Linked DNA regions of Homo sapiens. The protein of the gene in region 2 interacts with the protein of the main gene of each other region in a pairwise test. Each region holds a gene or a part of one and is shown on either strand. Other genes may lie near its edges.

The links.
Region 1: the proteins of SHPRH (region 2) and LPP interact in a two-hybrid assay, tested with the Homo sapiens proteins (one large-scale study listed by IntAct).

The regions. Positions count from the first base shown.
Region 1 is NC_000003.12:188,157,145-188,160,967, reverse strand, and holds part of LPP (lipoma-preferred partner), read right to left. Parts: intron 1-3,823. UniProt on the Homo sapiens protein: May play a structural role at sites of cell adhesion in maintaining cell shape and motility. In addition to these structural functions, it may also be implicated in signaling events and activation of gene transcription.
Region 2 is NC_000006.12:145,919,161-145,922,983, forward strand, and holds part of SHPRH (E3 ubiquitin-protein ligase SHPRH), read right to left. Parts: intron 3,677-3,823; coding exon 3,503-3,676; intron 3,189-3,502; coding exon 3,126-3,188; intron 2,233-3,125; coding exon 2,007-2,232; intron 332-2,006; coding exon 188-331; intron 1-187. UniProt on the Homo sapiens protein: E3 ubiquitin-protein ligase involved in DNA repair.

The DNA.
Region 1 (3,823 bases), on a different chromosome or scaffold from region 2:
TAAACTCCTATTCACTTCTCAAAACCCAACCAAATGTCTTCTTTTCCATAGGCATTCACCAGTTCTTCTAGATGATTGGTCACTCCTTTCTCCATGTTCCCATTAGCCCTTTGCTCATTACTTTATTAGAGCCTTAGCATCTTCTCTTTCAGTTTCTTTCCTATGATAGAAGGAAGACTCTGGAAGGCAGAGCCTATCTCAGTTTTCTTTGTAACCAGTATCTAGCATTTCTGCCTGGCATACAGTAATCACTTTGTACACAAGTACCGAACTCAATACATGAAATTGAGTTGTATCTGATCACAGATACGTGTGGGTTGGAAGGGTTAAGGAGTCTGGAAATTGCTTCATGGCACAAGGTAGATTTTGATATTGATCCTAGAATCACAGGTTTACAACAGGCAGAGACAGAAAGGCTGGAAACTCCAGGTAGAGAAAACAGCATAAGAAAAGGCATGGATTAAGAAAACAGAGGGCTGGGCACAGTGGTTCACTCCTGTAATCCCAGCACTTTGGGAGGCCAAGGCCAGCGGATCACCTGAGGTCAGGAGTTCAAGACCAGCCTGGCCAACATGGTGAAACCCCATCTCCACAAAAATACAAAAATTAGCCAGGCGTGCCAGCAGGCACCTGTAATCCCAGCTACTTGGGAGGCTGAGGTAGGAGAATCGCTGGAACCTGGGAGGCGGAGGTTGCAGTGAGCCGAGATCGGGCCATTGCACTACAGCCTGGGCAACAAGAGTAAAACTCCATCTCAAGGCTGAGCGTGGTGGCTCACGCCTGTAATCCCAGCACTTTGGGAGACCAAGGCAGGTGGATCACGAGGTCAGGAGTTCAAGACCGCCTGGCCAACATGGTGAAACTCCGTCTCTATTAAAAATACAAAAATTAGCCGGGAGTGGTGGCGGGCACCTGTAATCCCAGCTACTTGGGAGGCTGAGGCAGGAGAATCACTTGAACCCAGGGGGTGGAGGTTGCAGTGAGCCAAGATTGCGCCACTGCACTCCAGCTTGTGTGACAAAGTGTGACTGTGTCTCAAAACAAACAAACCAAACAAACAAACAAAAAAATACTCTGTCTCAAAAGAGAAGAAAACAGAGGACTGTTCCAGACCACCTGTCTGTGTGAGGGAAAAGTGAAAGAGCAGTTGCAACTGCAATTAACCTTGGCATAGTTAATCTCACAACCCTCAGCTCTACACTCCCAGTCCCTCAATCTTCACTCTGCTGGCAGGACTGCCCAATGCCACCTGTGCCAGCAACAACTGGCTCAAGGTTCTGGGGCAGTAAAAACAGTCCCGCTCCCCCATGATTGCTATCCTGTGGCTGCAGTGAACTATTTTACTCCCTCTCTTCATCAAGCAAGTATTTCTGGAGTGCCTACCATGTGTCAGGCATTCTTCTGGGCATTGGGAATACAGCCATCAACAAGCAGACATCACTGCAATCCTCAAGCAGCTTATTTTAAAGTGGAGAGGAGGCAGACACACAAATATGTAAGATGAAGTGGTGATGCATGCTTATTTGTGTCCATAAACATTGTTCATTCACCAAACAGCTACTGAACATCCTGGGGTCTGTCTCCTCTCACAACACAATAAACAGATTATTAATGCTTTTATCTGTGAGTGGCCAAAATGTAGATGACCCATCTGACTCAGGTAGGTGATAGGAAGGATTGTAGGTGTTCCCTCAGAGCCCTGAGCCAGAAAGCTTTCCTAGAGGACGCAGAAGCTATATGGTTCAGCACCAGAGAACATATAGCACCGTTACCGGAGCCGTGAGATCAAAGGTAATGACTGAGTTCAAGACTGTCACTTCCCCACTCTGTTACTTTATGACCCTAACTGCCTCTCTACAAGAATAAATCACATTCTTAACACAACAAGGGACTGGGGAAGCGAGCTCTGTTGAAAGAGGCAGATGATTTGCTAGAGAGGCTTAGTCCTTTCCAGTTAGGTTTGGGGAGAGACGACACCCAAGGTAGCATCTTAAGAGAGAAAAAGGGGCTAGAACAGCACCAGTGTGGGACTGAGAAGCCCGTTTGTCCATGTGAATCCTCAATTGTGACCCCACTAGGGCCCCACGAATGTGGGCTGAATTAAATTCCAGGGAAGAACACAGACAAGCAATGTCGATTTGAGCTTTTCATGCATGTGGGCATAGAAAAGAGTGGTGAAGAGGCTATAAGAATGAGGCAGAAGTTTGAATGCCTCCTGGTAGTTGTGTAACCTTATTTCACCAAATTCATTTTCTCATCTGCAAAATGAGACTGGTAATCAAAAAACCTACTTTAATGAATCAATATGATAATTACATAACAGGTGGTAAGCATTTGAAAATATTTCAAAATTATATTACTATTAAAAAAGAATGATAGGAAAGGAAACATTTTCCAGCCTCAACTCTGTGGTTTACCTGCTTCCAAACATTAATCCCTACACTACCTACAGCTACCTATCCACCTACCAATCTCACTGATGTGACCAACATTTAGAATGCACCAGCCTTTTTCTCCAAGCCTCCAGGCAGCCTACAGCAGACTTCCACAACACACTTGAAATCCTTCCACCCTTCCCCTTGCCCTCAGGTTCTCCGCCTCATATGTTCCCTCAAGCCAACAGATTTTCACCCAGATACTAGCTTCCTGCATGCATCAACATGATTATATCTTCCCCTTCCTCACTCTACTAAGTTTCTTCTAGCAAAGCACAGCCCTCCAAAGCCAGATTCCAGGAAAAGTCCCACCCACCAATGAACATACTCAGCTTGGATCCTCTAATCGCGGCCCAGGGTCAAAGTCCCAGGTTCACTCAGACTAAAAGTGGTACTATGCCTCCTGCATTACCATCCAAATAACTACTCCCACAGAGATGACGCTAGAGACCCTACCCAGCCTTATTCTCCTGTGAATCTCTACAGAACCACTTAACGGCCCCTATCGAGATTAATTTAAACCTTACTTATTAAAAAGTAAAGGCCCTCTTCTTTCTCCATTTTCCATGGTCCTCTTCATGGCTGGCCTTTCAAAACACAGCCTGGAGAATAAAGCAGCTTCTCCCTGCTTCTGCATCTGCTACTATCTTGCTAATAGGTCCTTCTCTCACCTGTCCTTCTTCCACCTGGACAACTCCTACTCATTCCTAGAGGTTCAGCTCAGACACCCCCCTCTCTATAGTGGTTTCCCTGAGGGTGAGCCTTCTCAGTGAAGAGCAGCCAAAACTTACCCTGTAAAAGCACTTAATACACGGACATGCCCCACTCCACCTTTTTCCCTCCCCCTCACACACACCACACACTTGTGTGCTCCTCAAAGGCAGGGACCATGTACACCTCATCTTTGTACGCTCAGGGCCAAGCCAGTTTCTGGTTCACCGTAAGCAGGCTCCAACCCCGGGTTTTACCTGCTACCTGCCATTTTCTATCTCCCTGTCTTTTTTCTGCTTAATGCAGCAAATATCTGTGCTAAGGGGGCTACACAGTTCTTATGAGTTACACTCTACCCGTGTACAAAATCCCCATCATCCAGCATCTTCAGCATAGTTCTGAAATCAAATCCGATCTAACTCTTGCCCCATTCCCAATTAACCCAGACTGGCTCAACAGCAGGGTAAAGTCACACGTCACCACCAAGAAGCAAAAGTTCTGGGTTGTAATTTTGAACACATCCCTAATTAGCTATATGACCTTGGGCAAGGGTTAAAATAAAGGTGACAGCAGCAGCAGGCCTCATTCTCAGGGGACCTTTGAGATTCAAATGGAGTATCTGATTGGAAAGTGTTTTATAAAGTGCAAAGCACTGTACATTCATAAACGACATGATG
Region 2 (3,823 bases):
TATGAAATTGCTCATCTTTGACCATTTTTGGTCTATAAAGACAATTTTCTATGGGTCAAATTAAAAATGGAGATTAAATACACACTTACAGTAGAGCTCAGTGCCCTGATTCTGCCTTTTCTATGGGTCTTAGATATCTGTGACATCTGCTTGCTGTTCCCTTTTCTGTGATTTACTTGCCAATTACCTCATGTGGTTCAATGATATGAAGAACAGGCGGATTAGGCTTTGGCTCCCTAGGATCACGCACTCTTAGTCGTTCTGTAGCCATTGCAAGTTCATCAACAGCAGACACACGATTCCTCAGAGCCATCCAATATTCATGAAGCAACTGAAGGAATAGAAAAGACAAACACAGTGGTAAAGCATGTAATTAAAACTGGTTAAAACCACCAAGATGTGCCTTAAGCAAAAGTCTTCAATGAGATCTTACACTTTTTCGCTATGTGTCTAACGTACAAGTAGTTCCTGGGGTCATTTTTAGGATGAAATGTGAATGAAAAAAATCTCTATAGGACACTGCCTCTTTAGATTCTCAGTAACAGAATATAAAGATTTCTTGCTAAGACCAAAAATCTTTATAAAGTCCAGTTTTAGGCTGACAGAATCTCTTGTTTTATTTTTTAAAAATAGTTTTATTATAACATATTTCACATATTCAACTATGTATAAATGGCAACAAGAATACTAAAATATACAATCAAGTACTCATCATTTAATTGAAGAAAGAATAATATGAATTCCTTGGAAAGGCTCTGTGTGTTCTTTCTCAACTGTATCACTCTTTCCTCACATATTCCTCCTTCAGTACCCAACCATGGGGCAACCACTATTCTGAATTGTACTTATCCTGCTACACTTTTCATTGAACTTATACTATGTGAAACATATTCTTAATAATTCAGTTATATATGTTTCTGAAATTCACAGAAATGGTATCAATCAGTATACATTTTTTGACAGGCTCTCTTCACTGACTTTACATTTTGAGGTAGATCTGGTAGATATGTACAGCAGGAGCTCATTCAATTGCTCTTCTGTGAAAAGGTCTGCAAAGTTATGCAGAAAATATGTACCAAGACCTGGGAGAACTGCACAGTAAGCTCTCTTCTGGACAAAGGGTATGTGGCCAAACTGAGTCGAAAGGAAGAATACAGGGGCAACTGAACATCATAAGTAACACTTCTTCCAAGGCTTACTGTAATTAACTGTGTTAACGTGCTTTGTATTCACATGAGTAATGTGTGAGAAAAACATTATTATAAACCAATGATTTTGATGTTATAAATGTATTCCCCAATTTATGACATATGAACTGATAGTACAAATAACTATCTCTCTGCATAAAAATTTTTATCCTACTTTAAAAAGCAAGACTTTTTAAAAAAGAAATTGAATAAAAATGTCATTATAAAAAAACACTTCTTTCCTTCCTCTACCTATGTCACCTGTAAAGCAGTACAATGGATAACTAATCCAAATAAAACAATAATTGAAAATTAATGAATTGTGAAATCTCAAGTACAGAGGTATAATATGATGGAATCATTAAAGTACAAATATGAAAGGGCATATCGGGCTTTATTTATTGGAATGGTTTCCAAACTTATAGGATAAGAAGTATTTACTATGTTCCCCAATCTTTAAGGTAGCTGATGCTTGCTTGTTATTCACAGAACAAAAACAAAACTCTAATTTCATATAATAGCAGTGGAAGATCAAGCTAATAATAGAATGAACACACTTTCACGGCTAAACAAAAAGTTTCATATAAGTTCCAGTTTAATAATGATTTTCTTTTAGTAATTTAATAAATAGAATGTCTTTGAGTATTATGGTATTTGCTATCCTTTATTACAACAGTTACATTTCAGGCAAAGAGAAATTATGCCACCTCAATCTCAAAAGAAGATTTTAAAAAACTGGAGAGAGAAAAAAGTAGCAGTTAAAATTGATGTAAAAAAGAAGAATTTTTAATTTTGGAAGGAAGTTTTAAAATACTATACCTTATATTCCTTCTTCCATGCTTCAAAGAGATCCATTGAAGTGCTTCCTTCATCAACAAATTCAACATCAAACCTATGTGATTTTGCAAATGATAGTATTGCTTTCATAGATCGCTCTGTCTCACTTATTGCCCAGAGACCCCGGGTGGTGGTAGGTGCTCGATCATCCACCAGTCCTTCTTCATCTTCTATCATCTCCTCAAATATTGCAGTCTGGCCTTTGACTCTGAAAACATACCAGAACAAAACAACAGTAACTGGTATCAGTGAGTGAAAAGCAACCTTCAATGTGAGTTCTAAAAGAACATGTTTGCAAGTCTTTGGAAAAACCAAAGCAACCTTGAAAAAGCTGAAAACATCATAAATTTGGCCAGTTTTTTTTTTTTTAAATTCTATTATATCCACTGTAATAAACAGAAAGCTACTGATTCATTTGCCATAACAACACAAAAATCTTGTTTTCTTCCTTGACATGCAGAAGTGAACGTTTGGCAAGGAAATATGTGAGGAAAATTTCTATTTTAGAGAAGTTATATCTGTTGGAGATAAATAAACAGAATTTGGACAGAAACATGAAGAAATGTATTATTTACTTCAGTAATAACAGAAAAAGATTTGACCTAAAATAGAATAGTAATACACCTGGATGAAAGTGGACACATTTATTGTTCTAACAAGCTTCCCTCTGAGAATCCAGGTGTTTGTGACAATGTTTACTTATGGTTTCATTAAAGTAATAACATATTTGATTGTGTCATTCTTTATTCTTGAAGAAGTTATGCCGGACATTATGAGTTCTACCTTGAATAGCAGTAAAATGCTAGCAAAATCTGTATAATTCAAATCCACTGGATTCTAGAGTCTGGGATTTTACCACTCCACAAAACTGCATCTCAATTAATTATATATTACTACACTATGAACATTTAGGGGATAACTTCTGGATAGGTAAAACTGGGCATATTAAACAATCAAATACCAAAGGTGTACTAATCAATTTAATTAAAGAAACAATATAATAAAGGTTACTGTGGGGGAAAACATAGTCTTATATCACATAACTGAGTCTTGCAAAATGTTTCATTTTCTTGATGGGTAATAATCAAATAGAGAACTTACGTGTTGGAAAATAGCTTTGATTCATACTCTGTGAACAATTCATCAGCTTTACAAAAGACACAGCTGAAAAAAAAGAGATTAACAGAAATATTCACAAACATAACCAGCAATCTGGTAATTTTAAGGAGAAGCTTAATATTTTGACTTCATTTTTCTTTCCACTAGATATGCCATTTTAGAAAAAACAAATCACATGGTTTTTCATACCTTGTCCTTGAGACTTTATTTTTCTTTAAATTAGATTAATACATCTCTTTCTACTTCTGTCTCAATTAAAATGAAAAAACCTTTACTATATGAGTCAATTGTTTCTTCTCTAAGAAATCTAGCTTAAAGAAATGGTACCATTTCATTGTATGATTTCTTCTATTACCTACCAGTTGAGAGGAAGTCTGGCTGGTCGGAGGTGACAGACTGTTGCAGACTCAATAACATTACGAGATGGAGGTCCCTCCAGGTTTTTTACAGCCTCTCTTACTAGCTTCTGGCATTTATTTAGCTCTTCCATTTGTGTTGTAAGTAAGAACTGAAGACCTCTGCAATCACGGAACCTGATTCCCACACCAGCACCACACACAATACAAAGAAAAGAATAATAGGTCAATTTCCTCAAATTCAGAGAATGGTTGCCAAACAAAGTGTTAAAGAAACTGTTTGCTGTTTTTTTTTTTTTTAACAGCAACATTTGAGTGAGTTTT